Linked DNA regions of Homo sapiens: all the other regions are linked to region 5. The links come from fine-mapping of genetic effects on gene expression. A gene starts in region 5. Each other region holds a variant in brackets. All regions are shown on one strand. Distances are from middle to middle.

Region 1 (5,133 bases), 67 kb before region 5:
GCAGAAATGATTCTGAGTGAGCAGGTAGAAGTCTCACGTCCTGCTCTCTGTTGCTGTTTTTGAGACAGTCTTGCACTGTTGCCAAGGCTAGAGTGCAGTGGTGCGATCTCAGCTCACTACAACCTCTGTCTCCTGGGTTCAAGCAATTCTCCTGCCTCAGCCTCCCGAGTAGCTGGGATTACAGGCGCCCACCGTGACTCCCAGCTAATTTTTATATTGTTAGTAGAGACAGGCTGGTCTCAAACTCCTGAGCTCAGGTGATCCGCCCACCTCGGCCTTCCAAAGTGCTGGGATTACAGGTGTGAGCTACTGTGCCCGGCCACAGGCTGCTTAAGAAGGCTGCTGCTATCTACAGTGGGAGGAGTTGGAGCCTGGCCACAGTAGCTTCCCTGCCATAACCAAACAGGAAATCCATTCCAGGCTTTTGTGAGATTGAGGATTCTGTGAATGAATTATTAAACATGGCAACCTTGTGCAAAGTTCTCTCTTAGGTGACAGTATCATTGGAGTTTCTGCTTGTTCAGGATGAGTCAACAAATTCAACACAGCCAAAAGTTGGAAGGTAGGGAGGGAGACAGCAAGGAAGAAAAGAAGAGTTGGAGGAGGGAGGGAAAGAAGTCTGGCCAACATAGTGAAACCCTGCCTCTACTAAAAATACAAAAATTAGCCGGGCGTGGGGGCACGTATCTGCAATCCCAGCTACTTGGGAGGCTGAGAAAGGAGAATCACTTGAACCTGGGAGGCGGAGGTTGCAATGAGCCTAGATCATGCCACTGCACTCCAGCCTGGGCGACAGACAGTGAGACCCTGTCTCAAAAAAAAGAAAGAAAGAAGGGAAGGCAGGAAGGAAGAAAGGAAAGAAGGAAGGAAGGAAGGAAGGAAGGAAGGAGGGAGGGAGGGAGGGAGGGAGGAAGGAAAGAAAGAAGGAAGGAGAGAAAGAAAGCAAAGCAAAGAAGGAAGAAAAAACAAGGGCTTGCTTTCCCTGTGATGGTTTCCTCTGTGAAATAGAGTCTAGGGAGGAGAGGTGAGAAGCAGCGTTTCAATTTTAAAAGTTGCAATTGCAGGTTCAGTGCAGAGATGGTCAAATCCCGACCTGATTGGAGTCAGCTGTAACTAGTTGGTAGTCAGCAATCTAGGGAACATGATATAGGCCTGTGCCATGCTGTGACACGCCATGACAGGCCAGGGCCACGTCACAGCATCTGTTTCAGCCTGCCGGTAGTGGGTTTTTCTGTCTTTTACATGTTCTTGTTGATGAGTTGGCTTTGGTTGAATCTTGAAATGGAATTGAATCTCTAGGCTGTGGCTTATGACAGCTCATAGAAGGCAATTGGCATGATATTTTGCAACTATGAGTGAAAAATCTTATACTTCATTGATGTTTGTTAAATTATCTACTTCAACATTAATAATAATGCATGGGCCGGGCATGGTGTCTCACACCTGTAATCCCAGCACTTTGGGAGGCCGAGGCAGGTAGATCACTTGAGCTTAGGGGTTTGAGACCAGCCTGGCCAACATGGTGAAACCCTGTCTCTGCTAAAAATCCAAAAATTAGCGAGGCATGATGGCACGTACCTATAGTCCCCGCTGCTTGGGAGGCCTGAGAATCCCTTGAACCTGGGAGGTGGAGAATGCAGTGAGCCAAGATGGTGCCACTGCACTATAGCCTGGGCGACAGAGACAGACTCTGTCCCAAAAATAAATAATTAAATACATGCATTCCTCATAATCTGGTGGCCACAAAGTCTCCTGGATATGCACTTGCGGCACTTTATTTTCCCAGTGTATACTGGATGACATGCAGTGCTAGTATTGTTGAAATAGTAAATCCTTAGTGACTGTCAACCTAAATAACAGAGAGAGGGTCCCTACAAGAAAAATATTTCTCTGGGAATAGAGCACTGCAATGGGAATATGCATGCCACAGTAAACTATGTGTATATTTGGGGAAATAAAGGAAGACAAAACTTTTCAAGGAAAAAATGAGGATTATCTAATTGCTTTGAAATAATTAGCCTTGGCTCCAAAGATCAATCATGAAAGTGGTGTTAGTCTGAGGTTGGACACGCAGTTGTTCAGAGGTCCTTGCAGAGTATGTTTTGTGTTCAGTTGCAATGGCCTTTGCTCAAGGTTGTGGTTTTCACCGTCTTTCATGGTACTTTTGGTTTTCAGGTGTACAACCATTAGAACCCTCTTTTCATGGTCTTCCCAGCTGTATTTGTCAGAGTCTTCTGTTTGTTTTTTAACATTAGTGACTCCATTTTGATTCTGACCATTTTCATGTGATGCACAGAATAAAGAAATGTGTATTGTTCATAATAACATTCCTTCCAGAACCACTTAGCTATGAATCAGTGAGAAGGGATATCTTTTTTAGATAATTGAGATTAAGAAGGTATATTGATTAGCTGTTTTCGTGTAACAAACAAACTGGTTATTACAGCAACCATTTATTTGCTTGTGATTTTGTGGGTTGGCAATTTGGGCAGGAATCAGCTGATAAGCCGGTCTCAGAACCA[C/T]GTGGTGTCTGTCAGCTGGGTTTTCTCACCTCTGTGGGCTTCACTGGGGTGGACTGGGATGTCAGGGAAGGCAGGGACCCTTTTTATGTGTTTTTCATTTTCCATGAGGCTAACTTGGGCTTGTTCATAGGTAGCAGCATTGTAGGAGGCCTACCCTTGGAATGTGTGCAGTGTCACTTCTGTCACCTTCTATTGATCAAAGCAAGTCTCAAGGCCAGGACGGGGCCAAGGAGTAGGGAAATAGATTTCACCTCTTGAGGGGATTTGTTACACAGAATTATGGCTATTCTTAATCAACCCCAGAAGTTTTCATAAGAGTTTTGATTAGCTACTTTCTAGCTTCATGAATTTACCAATCTATTCCTGGTTTTGTACCCTTAAGAAACTCTCATTTTTTAAATCTGATGAATATATGTGCATAAGAAGTTTTACTTTGTTAAAATTAAGTACATACAAAATTGAGACAAAATTATTTTTAGAAGGAAAATGAACGAGTAGTGCCGCTTTTCATTCTCATCCATTTCTCTAAGAAACAGAGGAAGCAGCAACTAATATATCTGAAACAGGGAGGAAAAAGAACAATTCCAAGAATTGTGGGAGTGCAGAGAAGTTTCTGGGCAGAACAGTGTGAGCCAAGGGGTGGAAGCGACTAAGATACATTGGAAGAACGGGAGGAAGCCAGTGTGGGGACGCTCAGAGAGTAGACTTACAGGGTGCCCAGCAGAGTTAAAGCTAGACTGATATGCAGGTACCAGAGGGTCAGGAGCTGCAAAGCTGTGATCATGGAGTTGGATTTACCATGAAGGTAACAAAACTTGACCTTCAGTTGCCTTCACTTGCATGAGCACCATCTTAGGCTTTGTACCTAACATTGAATTCTTAATTTTGTATTCTTTAAAAGAAAACCCCGATCGTACAACTTCAGGATCACAAAATCTGAATCCCCTGTGCATGTTAACATTTTTTATTTTATTTGAGAGCACCAAAGTTTTGTTTTTTAATTTTTCAAAAATCTTTTTATTATGAAATATTTTGAAAATATGCAAAACTACACGTCCCCACCTTCTCTCCTTGTGCTGTATTTGTTAGCTGGGTGTGGTGGCTCACACCACCTGTAATCCCAGCTCTTTGGGAGGCTGAGGCAGGAGGACTACTTGAGGCCAGAAGCAACATAGCGAGACCCTGTCTCTATGAAAAATACAAGAAACAATTAGCTGGGCATGGTGACACATGCCCGTAGTCTCAGCCACTCAGGAGGCTGAGGCCAGATGGTTGCTTGAGCCCGGGAGTCTGGATGACATAGTAAGACACTGTCTCAAAAAAAAAAAAAAAAGAAAAGAAAGGAAAAAAAAAGCCAAAAAACAAAACAAAACAAACAAACAAAAAATCACTTTCTCTCTATAGTTTCCCGCCCTCTGGATTCTGCTGATTATTGCATTCCCAGAAATGTATTTATCATGTCACTCTATCCCCCAAATATCTTGGCAACACTAATAAGACCTAGAGGCTTGATAAAATCCAGATCCAATTCTTGTTTTGTTTTGTTTTTTGGCTACTTCCTATACATTGTATTCTTCTATTCCGGTGGAATGACTGGCTGCCTCTTTATTTGTATTTATTTATTTGTATTATTTACAGTAGTCATTGATGATCATTACTTAAATCCATTATTTCATAACATTACAAAACAGTGAAATACTAATTATACCATTCTTTCTTCATGTATTAGCTGGCATACTTCTTTAAGGAGAAATTTCTCCTAATCAATTATTTGGCTACCCTGAGGTATAGTTTGAATAGGAACACTGAATAATGATTGATTCATTCTTTTATTTTAGTTTTTAAAAGGAGGTTTCCAAGCACCCTCCAAGGTGACAGATTAGTTGTCATTTAGTGTTCTTTGAATTCATGAATTTAAATATATTCAATGTTATAATCTATTGCTATTCTTATTGATGCCCAAATTATCCTCTTTGCCACTGAGAGCACTTCAAATTGGCTTTTGCATTCTTTTCATGTAATCTTTATAGCCTTTGGTAACTTCATTGCTTTCCTGTTCCAGACCTACATTTATCCAAGGAGATTTCCTTTTAGTGGAAATTGATATTTAGAAACCACAATTAGGGAACTAGAATCATTCTTTGCAATTGAATTGAATCTTGCTTCCAGGCCTTTTCAGTAGAAAGAGGTAGGAAATACCTTTTAAAAAACCTACCATGTATTTTTAGTAATACAAGAAACAATTAGCTGGGCAAGGTGGTGCATGCCTGTAATCCCAGCTACTCAGGAGGCTGAGGCAGGAGAATCACTTGAACCTGGGAGGCGGAGGTTGCAGTGAGCGGAGATTGCACCATTGCACTCGTGCCTGGGCAATAAGAGTGAAACTCCATCTCAAAAAAAAAACAAAAACCAAAACAAAACAAAAAAAAACACGACTTCAAATGGACATTTCTGATTCAAGTTAAGAACTTCAAGGCTTAATCTCACCTGTCTTATGTTTCTTCATTCTCTCACACTGAATATCTCACTTCCCAAAGATACAAACGTAATTGCTAATTTGCTTGATTTCACAATGTACATGCAATAGTACTAAAAATACAACACAGCCTAC
Region 2 (5,133 bases), 75 kb before region 5:
GTGCATTGCACACCCAAACCTGGGCAAGCTGTGTTAGTCAGGAAGAGGCTGCAGCATACGGAGAAGCCTCACTTGTGGGTCCTGAGTCCCTCTCTCCCACACTAAGCATGCTTTGGTTTGCAGGAAGGTCATGCATTCAGATTACACCCTGATAGGGGCACCCGGCCATGGAGTTGTGTGGGACTGAAGCCTGACCCACTGTTTGCATATCCAGCCATGCTTCCTGGTACAGAAACTGCATGGACACGCAAGGAAGGGAATCTTTGTATAATTTTTAGCCTATATTGGGCATTTTCCAAACTTGCCCAAAGATACCATACATGTTAGCAGCAGCCTCCAGTGCAATATGTATTTAGTAGCCATCTATTACATGTTCCAGATCCTGCCCAGAAGTTGTCAGGATGTAAATGTATACAATGTGCTCCCTTTTTCTGGGATTCTTATAGTCCAATTAAAGTGCTAGAGTTCCCTTCTATGGAGCCATCAATCATGACACTGAGGCTGCCTCAGATAACATCACAGCGGCATAGACAGAGTCAGAAAGGGCAGAGAAAGAAGAGATACATACAGCCCGCAGTTGTCAGGGGAGTCCTTCAGGTAGAGTATAAGCTGGGCCTCAAAAGAAAAAAAAAAAAAAAAAAAAAAAGACAGAAAAGAGGGAAAAAACATGAGCATATGACACAGGAAGGCAGGAGCAAAGCTCAGAGGCAGGGATAAGCACGACATGTTCAGGGAACACTTTATCCAGCCCTTCTCAACTTTGGCTGCAATTTGGAATCACCAGGGAGCTTTAAAAAATACTGGCTGGATGCAGTGGCTCATGACTGTAATCTCAGCACTTTGGGAGGTGACAGGAGGATTGGAACAGGGGTTTTGGGCCTAGGTTTGAGTAACCTAGGGTAAGTTTTTTAACTCTTGTAGGCCTTAGCTTTCTCTTCTTAAAAAAAGTCTTATAATACCTACTAATAATATATATGTTTCTGATATATATTACCAGAGGCTGAGACAGGAGGATTGCTTGAGGCCAGGTGTTGGAGACCATCCTGGGCAACATAGCAAGACCCTGTCTCTACAAAAAGAAATTTTTTTAATTAGCTGGATGTGGCGGCATGTGCCTTTGATTCCAGCTACTTGGGAGGATTGCTTCAGCCCAGGAGTCCGAGGCTGCACTAAACTATGATGATGCCATTGTACTCCAGCCTGGGCAACAGAGAGAGACTCTCTCTAAATTAAAAAAAAAAATTACCAGTGCCTGGATTTCACCCCCCAGAGTTTCTTACAGATTTTCTCTGAGTTGTAGCCTAGACGTTGGGATTTTTAAACTCCTCAGGTGATTCTAATGCATAGCCACGTTGAGAACCACTAGGATATATGATGTTATCCAAATTGGGCAGTAGAATTTAGAAGCTGTGAAATCATTAGGTTTCCCAAAATTTCAGATGGGGCAATTAGATAATTTAAAAGTTTTTGTGCACATAGGTCAGGTTAGTTTTCCTGTATTAGAACTTGACTTCTTTATACATTTTTCCTCCTCTCTGCTTCAATGTGGTCAGTGAGGTTTCTACTGAACTGGTTGTGGGTCTACATAAACATCCAACGCTTACATATTCAAGCCTGCTCATTTCAAATCAGAGCCTCTGATCTTGATCACTGCTATCTTTTCATGCCTTTCAAATGTTTTATTTAGCAGTCGTTCTTGTATTCATTCAAAAAACAGCACTGCGAGAAGCAGGCTACATTGACATACTTGCCATACTTCATGGCATCATAAGAGTTAAGATAAAAAAATCTTATCATATGTAATGCAAATAGCCAGGTGTGGTGGCTCACACCTGTAATCTGAGCACTTTGGGAGGCCAAGACAGGTGGATCCCTTGAGGTCAGGACTTCGAGACCAGACTGGCCAACATGGTGAAACCCCATCTCTACTAAAAATACAAAAATTAGCCAGGCGTGGTGGCATGCACCTCTAGTCCCAGCGACTCAGGAGGCTGAGGCAGGAGAATGGCTTTTACTTGGTAGAGGGACGTTGCAGTGAGCCAAGATTGTGCCACTGCACTCCAGCCTGGGTGACAGAGTGAGAGTGTCTAAGACAATAAAAACAACAAAAAGCTGTGCTTGTGGATTAATGCTTTTGAACAAACAATACACAGAAAAAGCTACATTTCATTGAATCATGTCAATTATAAGCATTTCAGAAAGTTGAAACATAATATATTTTTGCTTGTAAAACACAATACAAACTCGCAACTACATGCACACCTACACAGACAGCTACCAAAATAACACGATTAACTCTTGGAGTCATAAGCCACTGTTCATTTATAACTTATTCCTCCACTTCATTCTCTACTAGCATTTGCAAAAGGGTATAAATAATAAAAAATGACCAGAGAAAATGTTCATCCCTTCATTCATTTTGAATGTGAATGACGTGAAACAGGTCATGGTTA[G/C]ATCTGAGAAGCAGAGCACTCAGGCTCCCTGATTTCTGGATGTGTCTTCACTGCCTGCCAAGCACCATGCTGATGGCTTTGGTGGTTGGACTTGTGATTCAGATGAGTCTGGGTCTAATCCCAGCTCTGCCACACACATTGTGACAAGACCTGGGCAAGTCATCAAACAATCTAGGTTTCAAATGTCATTATTTATAAATGGGGATGTTAACCCTGTCTCCTAGGGTTAAATGGGCTTTATGACTAATGTTCCTGGCATGTAAACCATCTTAATCTTTATCACACACTGGAAGATATATATTGGTAGTATGTATTATACAACTTCTTTTTAAGAAGAGAAAACTGAGCCCTACATGAGTTACAAAACTGACCCTAGGTTACTCAGCTGCTATGAGCACACCCAGGCCCAAACCTCCTGTTCCAAATGCCTCGCCCTGGTTTGAGAACAGCATGTGTATTCCCCAAAGTGGGGTACATTGTATTTCCAGTCTTATTTGAAGACTATTAGCCTTGAAATATAAATAGTATCAGATGTACCCAAAAGCCAAAGGTGATGAGGAAGATATTAGAAGAGCTAGAAAATCACAATGATGAAATTAGAAAGCATCAGGCACATGGCCTCATTCATATCCATGCGAATCTCATGGATAACTGAAGATTTCTCTCCCAGCACACTTAGAGGAAGCTGGGAACCTACCTCCCAGGCATCCAAGAACGTTGCTTTTCCACCGATGGCATTACCTTTATCATCTTTGGGGAAAAGGTCATCCCCAGACTGTGAACACAGAATGAAAAGTTTACTGGAATCTGCATCAGGACACTTGGTTCTGTTCAACAAGGTTTCAGGATCCTGACTCTTGCTAAATACCACATCTGCATACCACTTTTTCAAGTTCTGGAGTACATACTTTAGGAATGTGAGTTTAATTAAAATCTCTGTATCTACTGTAGCATACTAATATTTTAGAAACGACTGGCTTGACTTTAAGATTTGCTGCTAGTACATTCCAGAAGTTCATTATCACCATGGACATTAACCTCATACACCTAGATCCCATATACAACCAAGGGCAAACTTTCATTTCAATATTACTGGATAAGGATTAGATATCCAAGCTGTGGTTTTCTGGAGAAGATATTGGCCAACTTCTATCCTTGCAGCCTCTAGAAGAGGCGTGGAATTAGGGGTGGCAGGCCATCATCACTCCAGTTGGTCAGGAGGGGAGAGAGCTGGAAATTTGTCTCTCCCACCCCTCAGGAGCAGGTAAGAGCAGAGCCCCAGGCAATGGGTGCCTGGATCACTACTGGCTTCCTTCCAGCATCACCATACTTGGGCTTTTCTCCAAGATGCCACTCCCAGGTGTACTTTGCTTAATAAGATAATTATGCCCTGGAATATAGTTATGCAAGAGTAACCCAAGAGATTTCCTGGGAGGGCAACCCTGGGGCGTGGAATCAAGACAAAGGTGATATGGCAGTTGCAACTTGTCTGGGCTGCCAGAAATCATGTCTTCTCTCAGACATAACTGCAAGAAAACCCAGGCATGTGGCCACCTCAGCAGCACACATGGCCTCAACCTCCCTTCCAGGCCAGTGTGTTTCTTCTCCAAGGTCTCTTCCTGACCACCTGCCATTCCCAATTATGAAATGCAAGGCCTCCTGCCCCAGTCCACACCACCCCACAGCCCTGGTGCAGCTACTATTTTCTGGCACCTGCTCAGAAACTAGAGGCTGAGAAAGAGAGTGTCTTAAACCTTGAATCCCTGTGGCCAGTGAATAAGATAGACGTCCAGATAGCTCAGCTTCAGGTCCTTGAGGGTCTTCTCAAAGGCTTTCCTCACAAGGGGTCTCTCAAAGAAAGTGGGCCACAACTGCAAAGAGTGTAGCAATGAGCTATTAATACTGGGAAAAGGAAGGGCCACATTGTACTCATTGTCCCTGCTTTTTGATTTGCATCCTCATCTAACCCACCACAAGCCATTTGTAACAAAGCTGATTAAGATCCACGACACAGTGTGGAACATCACCAGGGCTCAGCACCTCAATGACATGTCTTAAGTGTTAAAAGCAATTGACTTTTTCAACTGTCCTAGTACTCTATACGTGTCTCAGATCATTGAAGTAAATGTGGCCACAGATTTGAAATTTGTTTACCTGTCTCAGTCTCTTCCTCAGCTGTAGGCTCTCTGAGAGCAGGAATTGTGTGTAGCTTTTAAATGTCAAGCATTCTTAGGCCTTTGGGAGCAGATGGTCCTTTATCTGACCTATCTGATAGGTCCCTTATCAAGCCTATAAGGCCCCAAGTGATAATTTTACAAAGGCTTTATCCAGACTTGGCTGCTACACAGTGAGGTCTATTTGTCCTACCAGATGTATGCATTTTCCAAGTACCTAGAACTAGTGTTATTTTTTTTCAGCAAGTTATGTATAATATAGATCCAGTGATTCTCAGCCCTCTCACACCCAACATCTTCTTCTTTTTTATAACATTGTATCCCTCACCTTTTACTAGAATGAATAAAGAAATTCATATGTGACAATAGAAAAATGCCCCTACCATTTTCTAAAATTCCCCCTGGCTGAGAGTCTCAGGGGCACAGTCACTGAGATCACAGTGCTGAAAGGGAGGCTTCAGATCAAGACCCGCCTGCACCCTTGGCCTCTGATTGCCTCTGGGCAG
Region 3 (5,000 bases), 780 kb after region 5:
GCCTCCAGAACATTAACATCATGGAGGGAGGAGGTAATTTATCACAATGAGTTATAAGAGGGAGAACTGAAAAGTATTATTAATAGAAATGCTTTGGGAGAAAGATTGTTTCAAAAGCATGATTTGGAACAAAGGTAGCGAAAGGGAAAAAAAGGCCCTATAAAATTCTGAAAATGTAATTTGCTAAGATTTTCAAAATGGCACATTCACTTTCAGCAAGATGCTTAATTCCCAAAACAACTTATGGGAAAGAAGCATCAGACTTAGATGAATAGCAACTGTAAACTTGTCCTGCTTTTCTATGGTTGGGAGCACTGAGGAAAACACACCAAGGCAAGGACCTAAATTATAAATATGTGATGGGCCTTAAAGATTTTAACAAAACAGAAGTTATGACATCGGTTTCAATGCATAAAGAATAAACACAAAAATAAAAAATAAAATAAAGTATTTAATTGAAAGAAGTATGAGATTAACCAGGCAGGACGAGGAGCCATAAAGACAGTGGAAGCTGGCCAGGTGTGGTGGCTCATGCCTGTAATTCCAGCACTTTGGGAGGTCAAGGCGGGGAGAATGCTTGAGCCCAGGAGTTTGAGACCAGCCTAGGCAACATGGCAAGACCCCAGCTCTACAAAAAGAAACAAAACAAAAAACACTACCCAGGTGTGGAGGCATGCGCCTGTGGTCCCAGCCACCTGGGAGCCTGAGGCAGGAGGATCACTTGAGCCCAGGAGGTTGAGGATACAGGGAGTTGTGTTCATACCACTGTACTCCAGCCTGGGCAACACAGCAAGAACCTGTCTCAACAAAGAAGAAAAAAAAAAAAAGAGGGTGGGAGCAATCAAGAGCTTGCTTGGTGACACAGTGTGGAAATTCCAAAGGGGAAAACAACAAAAGGAGAATGAAACCAACCAGGTATGTGACTAAATTTATAATTTCAAAATAAACATAACCTTGAGAAATTCGTTACTTTAAGAAAGGGGTCAGCATGAGGGAAACAGTTGGAAGTGAACTGCTTTAAATTATTTCTCTGTGACTGAACACATAGTGCAATAAGCTGTGAAGAGGGTAATTCCATACTTACATTGTGTTTTACAAGCAAAGTGGGAAATTGAGAATTATTGAACCATGCTCAAGTTCTTATCCAAATGAGTGTTTCAATTAGTTAACTAAGATTTCCTCATGTTTTAGAACTGTAGTATGTGGAATAAAGCAGTCAATCTATGGTGCTGCAAAATGGCCCAGCAAATTTGTTACATGTGGGATTAAATCTAACAAGAGAAGGCTATTTGTGTTTTAACACCCAATAATATAATTTAGATACTTTAGGTTATTCTTTTTTATATAGCAGCTTTACTGCGATATAATTTACATATCATAAAGTTCATACTTTTTAAAAGGTTATTATTGATTTCAACAAATGCAGGAGGCAATGAAGACATTAAAAATTGCAAGTTTTAGAGTACAATTATAATGATGCTTTTTAACAACAGTACACTGTTGAACACATTATAGGACATTCAATAAACATCCTAATTCACTATGTGATGTAAGGTCTCTCAAATATATCTACCAATAATAACCAATTAAAATATTTTAAAAATCCCTCAGTTACAACTAATACAAAAAAAGCCCTCAAAGTGATGCCTTCTAATGATATTTAGCAGAAAGAGAAGGATTTAAGATTGATTAGCAGGTTTGGGTGGCCTTGGGGTAGGAGAAAGTAGAGATAAGCTCTTACTTATCTTTGTAGCTATTAAGGTGCTTAAAACAATTCTTTGCACATAGCCAACATTTAAGAAATATTTGCGAAATTAACCTAGAGAAAGAAGGAAGCTGAAATGTATAAAGAAAGAAAAAGCCAAATTAAAAATCGGAGCAAAACAAACTTTAAGACACAAGCTTGTAATTGCAAACTGAAACTATGGAATTTTATTTTTATGATTGATAAACTTAGATGACAATCTTTTTTTTAAGTGTACACAATATATTTGACATTTGAGAAATTCTAGTATACATTCTCTGTGGTGAGATTAGCATGGCCTTGACAAAGATGGAAGTGTCTAAAGATGAAATCATGGAACAAATCAAGCACAGTAAATCACCTGCATACGGCACTTTGACCCATGGATTTGGTAGAAGGCTTATGGAATGACAAAGACATGGGATTTGTCATTTGTTCCTAGAAACAACAATACATCTTAACGGTAACAAAGATGTTAACAAGAATCTTCTGTTCTTTTTTCCTAAAACTCAAAACATTAGAGACAAGGGAGACACTAAGAATTACTAAACCACTAAGTTTTTTCTCATGTATATGAAACAGGGAGCTCTAATAAAACAGAATAATACCTTGTAAGGATAAGACAGATGTTATCAGCATAAATAAGAATGACTGTCAGAATAAAGGAGGCAAGAACTCTGAAGCCTTGGTGATTCATCACTTTGTTCTCAACACACACACACACACACACA[TACAC/C]ACACACACACACACACACACACACAGAGTTTACTACATACCCCCCAATAATTTATTTTTTGATTAAATGAATATAACTTTTTGAATAGCTTTCTATAATATACATAAGAAACTCCTACTGTAAATAAGAGATCTTAAGAACAGACTTTTAACTAATGAAAATGACCAGAAAAATAGGAAAATAAATAGCTCAAGGGTATACACAGTTAGATACCACATAGATATCCTATTAATTAATTTATTTACTTAATTAGAGAGAGAAAAGAATGCCTTGGGGAAAAAAGGATAGGGTGGTAGCTGATAAAACATCTTTTGGGAAAGTAATAAATCACAGAAACATAACACCCTCCCTTCCACTTTGTACATGCTAGATCCTCTCACAATTACTGTCTTCAGTCCTGGTTCCTACACATGAAAAGAGACAAGAGTCAACTAGAAAAGACTCACAGAAGGGCAGCCAAACTATTTAGAAGAAGAACTGGTGCTATTCAGTCTAGACTTGAGGCTAATGTGATTGAAATATTTAACGGGTGTCATAAAGTGATTAGAACTACTCTATGTTGCTCTTCAAAATAGGCATACTCGGTCCCATTCCAGCAGTTGCAGCTAAAACAAAAGAGGCATACTTGGTATGCTACTTGTTTAAAATAAAATTTTGCGCCCATTCTAAATGTAATGTACTTTGTCGGGTGAAGTAGAAGATAAAAGGCGATCAGACAACAACCTTATTCTCATAGAGTACAAGGAAGATATAGAGGATGAGTACCATCTAGTATCTAGAACAGTGCCTGGTACATAACGGGCACTCAATAAATATTTTTTGAATGAATGAATGAATGACTGCAATTCTCACGCCACGAATTTTGCGACCACCTGCTTGACTGAGTTGCACTAACAGATCTGACTGTCTCATGTTCCTCTTCAAAACTGTCAGCTCATGAAGCAGACGACATTGCCACATAGAGATGAGACATCCTTTATTCATAGTACAAGCATAAATAATACACAAGGCAGAAACTAACAATTTGCCTGAGAAGAGAACCAAATGGTGCACTGGGAATTTTGAGGTTGAATAAATTAGTATTAAAAATCATAAGCTGGCATATTTCATCTCAATTTAATAATTAAAGCTGTCCAACAAAGGAACAATTCCCAACCACCCAAATCAAGATTGTGCTTTTTGAAGCCTCTCTTTAGAGGGATACGGTATACAGTTCCTCACTCCTACGCCGTTATCTGGAGATGTAGTGAGGGGCTAATTCATCTTGGCAGAGCCATCAGATATGTAGTCTGCTCTAAATCAAATAATCTACAAAGCAGAATGATTTGTCCACATAGAAGTAGACAACTAGTAAATCAGACCTAAAAATCTTCCAGAATAAAGTCAACTCTTCCCTGATACAGAACTATGGCCTATACTGTTTCTATAATACACTGCCTGGTTTCAAATTTTAAGCATTCAAATTTGTGACCATTTATTTAAAGGAACAAATATCTACAAAAGCAAATCATATCAAATAAAAACAAAGATAACACAAAAATAACCCAAATAATCTTAGAATATAATCAGGCATACATTCATCTAGAAAGAGTTTTGAACACTCATATATTGACTCTTTCTGGACTTCAACCATAAAACAGAATGGCCCTACTGACCAAATGCCACACAGACGTCCTGGCTTGTAGATATTGCATTTATGGATAGCTGACAGCTGGGGTCGCCTTGAAAACTCCAAATGGAATTGACAGAGAAGAGATTTTGAAGCAATCCCCTGCCCCCTACCATCCCCCACCAAAAACACAACCCTCCAAAACTAAGGGTTTTCCATGGGTGAAGAAAATGGAAAACACTAACTTACTGTGTATTTAGCATAAGAAATTAAGCATTATATGCTTTTAAAGAACACTTTCTTATTTGAATTGCCAATTTAGACTTTGTATCACCTTCTAAGATGTTGCTAATGTGACTGAGTCTTTTCCCTCCCTGAGTCTCACTGAATTCAGATGCTAGTAGTGAGCACAATGTTAAGCACTGTAATTCTGTCTTTATTAGATTCAGGTATATAAATGACATCCCAGTGAGCATGGTGAACTTTGATGGTTACTTCTCCACTCAAGTTGTGTTCATCTTCCTGCTGAGAGGATGATCAGTGAGTTTTACCATAGGCCCAAGGGACCTATTATTTATTATAGTACATTTTATGGTGTGGAGTAAATAAATAGCATTAAAGTGCTAAATTCATTCACAAGAGATGAACTGTATTCATAAACTGGAGAAGTTCTTTAAATCAAGTCTATGCTGCTAATAGGCTCTTCATAAATATGCAGAAAACATTCATTGTAATATGACAGCAATAAAGGGAGGCAGCTGGAGTAACACAGAAACATTAGAAAGCAAACATTCTAGGCAAGGCACATTATTGGCATATAAGTGAATCATGAGGTTAAACACACCAAACTCATTTGGTAATCTATCATTTTTATATACCTGAATTGCAAAAATTCAAACCTTAAAACAATG
Region 4 (5,133 bases), 240 kb before region 5:
GCTGGTTTATAGCTGAAGGGAAAGGCTCTTTGATCCATCTTTCTCTCACCACTGCCTGCTCCTTCTGTTCCATTCCTTCCTGTAATAGGCACAGTCATCATTTTTATGTTTTTTAAATAAATAAAAGCACAATCATGTCAGGGCTGAGCAGCACCTTTGAGAGGATCTGATCCCCTTCCTTACTGTTCAGGCAAGAAAACTGAAGACAGAGGTTAAGGAACTTGCCAAACGTCACAGCCAGCAGAGGTAGTGGTGGGATTTGAACCCAGGCAGTCTGGCTCCAGCACGCAGGCTTGTAGCCAGAATGTTCCACAATGCATAGATGCAATAAGAAAGCTGATCTAATAGCACAAGACAGGCGAGCATAACAATGTCGGGAAGACCCATGCAGAGGGCAGGGGAAAGGTTATCCTTGTGCTATTCTTGTAATTTTGTTCAACAAAATTGTCAGCATGTGGGCAGAAAAAGAGGCAAAGCCACACACTGTCTTAACCATTTGTAAGCACAGACTATATCACAAAGGGGATTAAAGCTCACATGGTCGGATTCTGGCCTCTCTCACTCCCTTCTCCTAACTCACAAGAAGAGTCAGGCAGCCTGGGCGGGACCGGACCTCTCATGGGCTCCAGCAGCCTGGAGTTCTTCTTCCCATGCTGCCTCTTCCCAACTGCATGGGTATTGTTTCTTCTGTAAATCGGGGAGAGGATTGTTCAACGGGATTACTGTGGGTGCTTTCCAACTCTGAAGTTGCAGGTGTGTCCCACCCTTGAGTGGCAGGGGTAGCTTTAGTGTAGCTTTCTATGCAGCTGAGGGGGACAGTAAATGCATGATCACATGCATTTTTACAGACTGGTTTTGGGTCGATTCATACCTCAAACTCCATGATGGAGAGAACTTTCATAGCCCTTGTAGCTCCTCTCAGCATCTAGAGCAGGATTCTGCTGGTGACAGGTATTTAGCAAATATGGCAGAGTGGCTGTTCCCAGGCCCAGAGCCACTTGCGGGTCCCCCAGAATCTTGATAAGACTCCTCCTTCCATAAAGCTTCTTCCCCACTCCTCCTATCCAAGACTGGATTTAGGGGGCTCAGGATTCTACAAACAAAGCTGAGTGACCCTGTGACCTTGTCATCTCACAGTGACTAGACAAGAAGATAGCCTATCTATCTCCCTGACTCCTGGGAGGCTGCTCCTCCTGGTCTTTATAGAGGCCTGGCTGGAGACAAACTATTGGCCATTTTGCTTCTTGCTTGTTTTGCCTTGGGTTTTTCACAGTTTTCTTGATAAAACAAAAGGTGTTCAGCCTCTTAAAGTTTTTGCCCAGTTCTTACCCTTGACAACAGCACCTCATCACCAATAGTCAGTAAATTTCATTTCTCCCATATCCATATTTCCCTTGCTTCCAGGGTAGGGGAATGGGTTTTGGCCCTGGTTTCATACAGCTGCAGAATGATTTCCAGAATGACGTCCCATGATGGCCATGTGAGAGGAAACAGGCACGAACTGCCACCTGGGAGTGATTTCTGGTGAGACATTTCATCTTCCATGGTGGCTGGCTTAACAGTCAGGCTGGTGAAAGCCAAAAGTTCATCCTCCAGGAATGTTCTGGAGGTTATGCCGCCTGGAGGTAAAGGGTTATTCTAAGCCAGTCTCAGAACTTTGGACCTTTGATGTCTAATTCAATGGTTAGAACATGGGCTAAATGCTTTTGATCCCTAGATGGGGCCAGTGAGCTTGGTTTAATTCAGTGGCCTAAAGCCCACCACTGACTATGTTGGTGAATTTCAGTGTAGTTATTCAACAGGAAGACCAAAAGGAGAGGCTTCACCTCAACTCCTCTCAAGCTGGTGTGCTATCCCAAAGCAATTTGAAATGCCGACATTGATTTGGCAATGATGTATATGAAGGAAGAGTTATGAAGCTCAGTATTAAAGACTGACGTTTCTACTTCTTCCATGCTTTCGTTATGTTAATGTCGCCTCCACATTACCTTCAGATGGAAAGAAAGAACATCACATGAATGGTCAACTACAAAAATTAACTATTTTCAGTCCTGGATTAGGTAAAAAATAATGTATATGGCAAATCATGAAGTTAAGTATTTTCCAAAAATATTTTTTACTGCCTTAACATACTGGAAAAGCAAAAGAATAAAGATGTTCTATTCAAGAATGTAAGTTTATAAATAAGTGGGGGAAAGAAAGGAACATGAGGCCGGGTGCAGTGGCTCACGCCTGTAATCCCAGCACTTTGGGAGGC[C/T]GAGGCGGGCGGATCACCTGAGGTCGGGAGTTCGAGACCAACCTGACCAACATGGTGAAAACCCGTCTCTACTAAAAATACAAAAATTAGCCGGGCGCAGTGGTGGGCACCTGTAATCCCAGCTACTTGGGAGGCTGAGACATGAGAATAGCTTGAACCCAGGAGGCGGAGGGTGCAGTGAGCCGAGATCATGCCATTGCACTCTAGCCTGGGCAACAGAGCGAGACTCCATTTCAAAACAAAACAAAACAAAACAAAACAAAATGCAAAAAAAGAAAGGAACATGATCAGGGAACTGGGAGGACCTGGGAGAGTGTGAGTCCACATGGATGAGGATCCAAGCTCAGAGAGGCCATGTTCTTTCCTAAGGTCACACAGCTTAGATAAGGGTTAAAATAAGAGAACATTTAACCCATTTATACCCGAGATTGCAATTTTTGAATTTTTGCAATCAGACCTTGGTGATGACCCTAAGCAGTAGGATATAAATAACTCCCACGTGCTCAGCGTTCCAGTAATGGAACACTAGGCATAAATGGGTTTTAAACAAGTAAAAAGAAAAACTCATTTTTCTGATTCCTAGTATAGTGCTTGTTCCTCTACATAATGTTGCTGTCTAGATTTTTTTTTTTAGATTGTTCATCCATTTTGGAAGCCTAATTGGCAACATAATGGAATTTTCTGAAATCCACAGAGAGAAAAAAAGAGCCAACTACATTCAGTTTTTTTTTGTTGGCTTGTTTTGTTGGAATGTATAAACAATTCACCAACAGACATCATTTCATAGTCTGAAAGGAGTGGAGAATTAAAGAGATTTTGTGCTCAACCTCTCAGTAGAGGAAAGCCCTGTGACATCAATGCACAAGGCTATGGTTGAATTATTTTGGATTTGAGGTATGTGTGTGGGATTTGAGGCATGAAAAGAGGTAAGAGAGGAATTAAAAGGAATTGTTGCTTTCTGGAGAGCCCCGAGTTCAGATACAATGACAGTGAGCTGATCTACGTCTCTTCTTATAAGGAAAATACCATCACTCAGCTACATTTCTGAGAAAGAGAAGCTTTCTGTCTAAAAGAGGACCACAATGAGTTTGTTGAGCTAAATGACTCTTTTGAAGGAATGTTGTAACAAGGAATGGCTAAACGTGATTTGAAATCAGCTGGGTTATTCAGAAAACTTGCCTATTTACATGAGCGCATCCAGCCATTCACGGTTGCCCACGTAGTGCAAATCCTTTTGCTTCTCCATCACTGGAACGCCTTTCCTTGGGGCGAGCCTCTTCTCAGCCTTCAGGAGCCAGCTCAAATTGCACCTAATAAAGTGTAGCCTTCTCATACTGGCCCAAGGCCAAACTCCTTTGTCAGCTTTGCATCTATACCTCAATATGGAATTTACCAAAATGATTCCTTTCTGCCTTTCCTTCTCCATTTGATCATCAACTCCTCAAGATTAAGGACAGGGTCATATTTATCTTTACACCCTAGTGCTTAATACAGTGCCTGTACATGTGATGGTTGATTTTATGTGTCAGTTTGGGGGCACAACAAACGTCATGCACTGTTGTTTGGTCAAACATCAGCCTAGATGTTGCAGAGAAGGTATTTTAAAAGATATAATTGATATTTAAGTGAGTTGACTTTGAGTAGATTACCATACATCATGTGGGTGACGCTCATCCAATCAGCTGGAGGCCTTAAGAGAAAAGACTGAGGCCCTACAAAGGGGAAGGAATTCTGCCTCCAGACTCAAGTCTGCAATGTCACCTCTTGCCAGAACTTCCAGCCTGCTGGTCTGGGCCTGCAAATTTCAGACTTGCAGTTCCCACACTTTCTTTTAAAATGAATCAATCTCTGTCTCTCTATCTTTCTGTCTCTCTCCATATATATGTATATGTCCAAATATATATGTGTATATATTGAATCAATATCTTGTTGATTCTGTTTCTCTGGAAAACATGGAGTAATACAGCACATGTTTAGTAAGAGTTTAGTGAACCACCAACTTAATAGCAAGGAAAAGGAAGACGGCAAGTAGGGCTGAAGGCTGGACGGGAGAGGGAAAATGCTGGAAAGTATATGAGTAGATAGAGATTGAATAACCAGGGAAGAAACTGCATGCCACTCTTTTTAAGATAATGATGTCTACCTTTATTATGCACCTGGGTACCATATGTGCATAGAAATATTTTAATGCAATTGGATTTCCTTGTATTTTAGAGACTCTCATGTAAATATCAAACTGTAAGGTAGAATGAGATTAAGATATTTAAAAAGGGATTTAGGCCAACATAAAGCACATATAATAAAGGGTATTTATGTTTTATGGAGGATTTTCTGGAATCTTTAGAATCTTTGGGGACTGGATTAAGTCCCTGGGATTCCTAAACCCTTAGGAGTCCTCCAACTATTTTCAGTATTTTAAAAGTCACATTGAAGTCCTACCCCTGCCTGCTAAGCCTGCACAGTCTCGTTAAAATGTCAAATTTTGTTTGCTTTGGGCTAGAATTCTGTTAACCAAGTTTGATGGGGTTGGTTATCTTTTGCTGCCCAATATCTCTAATTGGCAATTGCACATATCTTGGAATAACTTTTTAAAAATGGAAGCATGGATAAACTAATTTTAAAATGCAGGTTGTTCGATAGCAAAGTCTTTTAAAACAAAGGAGGCACAAAAGGTGGAGAAAAAGAGGTAATGAAAGGAGTTTCTAGTGATGGGCAGGTGAGGAGCCTCATAATGGATAATTACTGAGCTCCTGAAAGGCCCAAGAGTTGAGTAAAGTCAGTGCAGTATCTGGTTAGCCACAAAGTTCACGGTGGTCCAAAGTTAAATGTCCTGAGTTTGCACATGCAGCCAAACTCATGCACAGATGCCACTAGAG
Region 5 (5,133 bases):
TAAAAATACATACGCATATGTGTATATCTGTGTGCAGGCCTGGGACTAAGGGAAGGCAAGTGCCAAGGACATAAATGTAAAAAAGCTCCTACCTTCTGGCATGAAAATTTGTACCTGTGTACCTCATTTGTCTTACCTTGGTCCCAGCCCAGCCCTATACCTAGTGTGTGTGTGTGTGTGTGTGTGTGTGTGTGTGTGTGTGTGTGTGTGTGTTTTCCTTTTAAATTATTTCCTTAGGAAAAATTCCCATGATGGGAGATTACTGGTTCAGAGCATGTTAAGATTCCAATTACTAGAGTGTTTCTCAGGAGGATTCCATTGAAGGTTTTTTTCCCTTTTTCAAACAAAATTTTGATATGTATACTTATCAAAAGATGGGAGATCAAAAATCTTGAGATCAAAAATTTTGGTATGTGTACATTTTACAAAGATTACAGAGGCAATGGGGGATGTTAGGGGGCTATCACAATAGCATGTCCCAACTAGAGTGCTATTGTTGCTATAGAAATTCCACTGATACAACTTTTCATGTCTGCATGGCCCAGCCAAAATATTCTGGGTTTATTTATTTATTTTACAGACAGGGTCTTGCTATGTTGTCCAGGCTGGTCTCTAACTCCTGGGCTCAAGCAGTCATCCCACCTCAGCCTCCTGAGAAGCTGAGACTACAGGTATCACTCCAGCTTTAGACACAGTTATAACTTCATGCAATCAAGCTGTATACTCAATTATTATCAAACCAACAACAAAGCCTCTGATATTGAGTCCATGTCCCTAACAGACGACCCTTCTGTGTGTACCAACCTGGCCACTCAAGGTGTATCATTTTCACAAGAGATTAGCTCTTTGGATTTGGACCCAGGAGGTTCAATTGGCAGAGCAACCTCCAAGTCAAGAGGACTCTCATGGAGGAAGGAACTTGCTGTTTTACACAAAGCAAGTTCCCAGCTTTAGGCTCAAGTTCAAATTCTATTACTTGGGGACAAATGAATTTGCCCAATAGCAACAATTTTTACAAAAGTTACATGGAAAAATATCTGGGCTAGTCTGTTCTGTATAAATTTTTCCAGGAGGGAGCACTTTTAAAGAAAGCACCAAATGGAAAATCACCGGCATGGAGTTTAGAGAGACCTGGTGCTTGAGTCACTACCAGGCAGATGGAGTTCCCAATCTTGCATAATTAGGGGAAAGATCGGAGGGTGATGGAGCAGAAAGAGCAGTTGGGGTGAGGTAGAGTATCATGAAGAGAGGTTGTTGGAAAGAAACCAAAATTGTCTTCAAGGATCTTCAAGTGACTTTTCTTAGGCTATCTTGGAAAAATGTGTGTTTCTACCTGCCAATTAGGGTGATCAATTTACTATTTTGTACCTTCTAATTTGAAATACTGGAAGCTACAATATTAGAGTCAACTTTTTCTTCTGTGGTTTTCTGTCTGTTCACTTTTCTTCCTCTAGAGAGTTTTGATAAGTTACTGTACTGGAACTTACTGCTTTGATAGAGTCTCACTTTCCAAAGACTGATGAAATTTGTCTTACTGATTCTGAATGGACAGCCTTACTTTCCAAATTCTTCTGAGAGTTCTGGATCAAGCCCATCAAGGCTTTCTAACCTCAAGAACATCAAAGGATGCTGGCTTTTGGTGGAAGGCTTGCTGAACCACACCTAGTATGCACAGACACAGCTAACACCTAGAGTGGGGTGCAAAGAGAGATCTAGAAGGCTACAAAAAGTCTGGGCAAACCCATATTTTGTGAAGGTGCTTTGCAAAAGGATTGCAAGCCATTTTTCTGGCATGCACCTTTGTCTAAGAACAAAGTGCGGTAAACTATATGTGTAGTCAGTATGATTCACATAGATTAAGGACAAGGTATTCGTCAGATTCCCAAAGAGCATCAAACTGGGGTTGGACAACAAAGGCATTCTTCTGGGCTCTTAATGAAACCAAAACTTATTTCTAGTCTATGTATTTATGGGATGCCTGTTATTTTCGCTAAAGCATTCGCTTTCCCACCAGATACAGCAGCTGAGGAACTCCTTTCTGCCACGCGGGGCGCGGGCGAGCGTTGGGGGCGGAAAGAATCCGCTGCCACTAGGACCAGGCGGAAGAAGCATCCCCGCCGACCCTTGGGGAAGGCCGCCGCGGCACCCCCAGCGCAACCAATCAGAAGGCTCCTTCGCGCAGCGGCGCGCCAACCGCAGGCGCCCTTTCTGCCGACCTCACGGGCTATTTAAAGGTACGCGCCGCGGCCAAGGCCGCACCGTACTGGGCGGGGGTCTGGGGAGCGCAGCAGCCATGGCAAGCCGTCTCCTGCTCAACAACGGCGCCAAGATGCCCATCCTGGGGTTGGGTACCTGGAAGGTAGGTGCTCGTGGGGGCGCGGGCCCGGGGCTCGCCTCACACTCTCCGCGCGGCCTGTATTGGCGAGGGACCCCGAGTGACCCTGAGCAGCTCGCCCCGCGGACGCCCGGCGTGCTGGGAGCCACGCGCGGGCTTGCAGGGTCCCCAGCGGGCTGGGGTCGGCCTTGCAGAGACCGGGGGCCTTGGCTCCCCGGGTTGGCCCTGGGCGTCAGGGCAGCATCCTGCGAGTGGGGTTTGGGAGCAGCTCACGGGAGCCCCCGCCCTACCGCGGGCAACCCTTGATGGGCGGCCCACCAGTCCGCATTTTGGGTCCTAGCGGGCGCCCCAAGCGGCACAACGCGAGAGGGAGGCGGGGAAAGTGGGCTTCACAGACCGGTGGACCTCGGGCGCAGACAGGGACGTGGAGCCGTCGGCAAGGTGTGGGAGCGCAGACCCAGCCTCCTTTCCCTCGAGGCACCTGTAGCCCGGTTGCCTCACTTGTAAATAGTTGGTCTCAATCGTTTCGATTCTTGCCCTCCCTGAGGAATAAGCATCTCAAGCCGGTAGAGGGCAGAGAATTAGGTGGCGCGAGTTTGCCCGGACCCAGCTGTTAACAAGGCGCAGTGCGGAGCTCCTCGGCCAGGCGCCGCCTCGGGGTGCCCTGGGTCTGGAACTCGGGAGAAAAATCTGGGCACCCCGTAGCTAGTTGATAATTCAGGAGGCGCCAAGGTTAGCATTTTCCCTGTAAAACCTCAACACCACACAGCGTCCCCGAGAAGTGCCTAGCCGGATGAGAATGACAATAGGACATGAAACATCATAGGATATGAAAAATGATAATATGATATGAAAAACCAAAAATAATAGCCTGAGCCTGATTATCTGAAAATTGAGCAACAAAGGTGGTGGTATGGGAGCTGAGGCAAAACCTAGAATTTTTAACCTTCTAAGTATTGCATATTATATTCCACAGCCATAACCTGGGTTTCTCAGTTTCTGTTTTTGTTGTTTGCTTGTTTGTTTGTGACAGGGTCTCGTTGCCCAAGCTGGGGTGCAGTGGCACAATCATGGTTCATTGCAGCCTGGAACTCCTGGGCTCAAGTGATCCTCCTGCCTCAGCACTGCGGGTAGCTGGGACTACAGGCGCTCACCACCACACCTGGCTAATCTTTTTTCTTCCCCGCAGAGACAGTCTCCGCTTGTTGCTTAGGGTGATCTCCAATTCCTGGGCTCAAAGCGCTCCTCCCACCTCGCCTCCCAAAGCTACAGGTGTGAACCATCTGGCAGGCCCACGTCCCAGGTTTTTCTCTTAAAATTTGAATATGGGCCTGGGCGTTGGATATTTACACACAGACAAGGGAAGAAAACAACAGAAAGAACTGAGTGAACTGTGAGATGTTTGAAATAGGACAGAAGAGTTTACATGTACCCTAAAACCTGCTGTTGAAAATTAGTAAATATAAGGTAAGAAAAAGGTCATTTGCATCAGGGAGAGTGTTTCTTGGCCAGAATGATCAGGGTACGTGATTTGTTTCCTCCAAAAACTCCAGTGGTGTCTCTAAGGTTGTAATTGAATTACAACCATGACACCAAGCTAATTTCCATCTGTTGCATGTTATGCTCTTGGAATGGATGCAGAAGGATGCTTTCTTGGCAATAGCAAATACTTTCTAAGCATGATGCAACGCACAGATATATACATGTAACTGGAATAAAAATTACTTAACAGTACTTAACCTATGTAGGCTGCATTTCAATATTTTTTTCTATTCCATTTTTCCAAAAATTATTGTCATACCTCCAGAAGCTAGTTTTGTGACCCATCATTTGAAAATCACTACTCTAGGGTAAATAAGGAGTAAAAGTTTATTTTTTTTTTTTTGAGACAGGGGCTCAGTGTCACCCAGGCTGGAGTGCAGTGGCATGATCATGATTCACTGTAGCCTTAACCTCTTGGGCTCAAGTGGTCCTCATACCTCAGCCTCCCAAGTAGCTGGGACCACAGGTGTGTGCCACCACACTCGGGTAGTTTGTTTTTAATTTTTTGTAGAGACAGGTTTCCCTATGTTGTCCAGGCTGAGGAGTAAAAGTTTATGAAAGAGGGTTTCAGATTATTCACTTGAGCACTCAATGCCCCAAAAAGCTATGTATTTGTTTAAGATAACATCACATCATAACATCTGTACATTTAGGTTATGCATTCCAGTAGACAGAGTTCATTGAGAAATTGGATAATGTCTGCTTCATTCATTACTATTTCTAGCACTTCTCACAGTGCCTGGCAAATATAGGAGTAGGTATCCAAAAGTTATGTGTTGAATTCATATGAAGAAGTAAAACGACTTTAGAGATAGCTGTATGGTGAAAACGCCCACTTGTATTCCTGTGGATGAGGAGATCAGGTTGGTGTAGAATTGTACGGTGGGGGCAGCGGGGAATGGTGGGTCAAAGTAATGGTATAAGGATGGACTTGGAATCAACTTCCTTTTTTTTTTTAATGACTTAAAACCTTTCCCTGGGGCCGGGCGCGGTGGCTCACACCTGTAACCCCAGCACTTTGGGAGGCAGAGGCGGGCAGATCATGAGGTCAGAAGATAGAGACCGTCCTGGCTAACATGGTGAAACCCCGTCTCTACTAAAAATACAAAAAATTAGCCCGGCATCGTGGCACGCACCTGTAGTCCCAGCTACTTGGGAGGCTGAGGCAGGAAAATCGCTTGAACCCCAGATGTGGAGGTTGCAGTGAGCCGAGGTCCCGCCACTGCACTCCAGCCTGGGCGATGGAGCAAGACTCC

Direction of the effects. Positions count from the first base shown, and alleles are read on the strand shown. Sizes are in standard deviations (SD) of each study's normalised expression. Not every link is listed here.
With allele TACAC in place of C in region 3, the expression in prefrontal cortex of the gene that starts at base 2,256 in region 5 is lower (moderate effect, 0.70 SD a copy in CommonMind).

What was found.
Region 1: its variant is fine-mapped to the expression of AKR1B1 in blood mononuclear cells (TOPMed, PIP above 0.99).
Region 2: its variant is fine-mapped to the expression of AKR1B1 in blood mononuclear cells (TOPMed, PIP above 0.99).
Region 3: its variant is fine-mapped to the expression of AKR1B1 in prefrontal cortex (CommonMind, PIP 0.95).
Region 4: its variant is fine-mapped to the expression of AKR1B1 in whole blood (INTERVAL, PIP above 0.99).

Annotation. Positions count from the first base shown.
Region 1 is chr7:134,522,772-134,527,904 of GRCh38, reverse strand. It overlaps AKR1B10 (aldo-keto reductase family 1 member B10), which reads right to left and starts at 338. Exons shown (of 10, transcript NM_020299.5): 1 at 1-338. The variant C/T (reference allele first, on the strand shown) is at 2,523.
Region 2 is chr7:134,531,099-134,536,231 of GRCh38, reverse strand. AKR1B10 (aldo-keto reductase family 1 member B10) reads right to left here. Exons shown (of 10, transcript NM_020299.5): 3 at 4,208-4,324; 4 at 3,151-3,228. Among named protein-coding and RNA genes, the nearest start is that of AKR1B10, 6.1 kb to the right of the region's middle. The variant G/C (reference allele first, on the strand shown) is at 2,454.
Region 3 is chr7:133,674,433-133,679,432 of GRCh38, reverse strand. The region is part of intron 10 of EXOC4 (exocyst complex component 4); the gene reads right to left. Among named protein-coding and RNA genes, the nearest start is that of MIR6133, 390 kb to the right of the region's middle. The variant TACAC/C (reference allele first, on the strand shown) is at 2,476.
Region 4 is chr7:134,698,044-134,703,176 of GRCh38, reverse strand. All of the region lies in intron 1 of LOC124901750 (a long non-coding RNA gene), which reads left to right. Among named protein-coding and RNA genes, the nearest start is that of BPGM, 54 kb to the right of the region's middle. RefSeq lists a silencer at 1-280. The variant C/T (reference allele first, on the strand shown) is at 2,258.
Region 5 is chr7:134,456,223-134,461,355 of GRCh38, reverse strand. It overlaps AKR1B1 (aldo-keto reductase family 1 member B), which reads left to right and starts at 2,256. Exons shown (of 10, transcript NM_001628.4): 1 at 2,256-2,359. The coding sequence starts at 2,294. RefSeq lists a silencer at 2,457-2,646.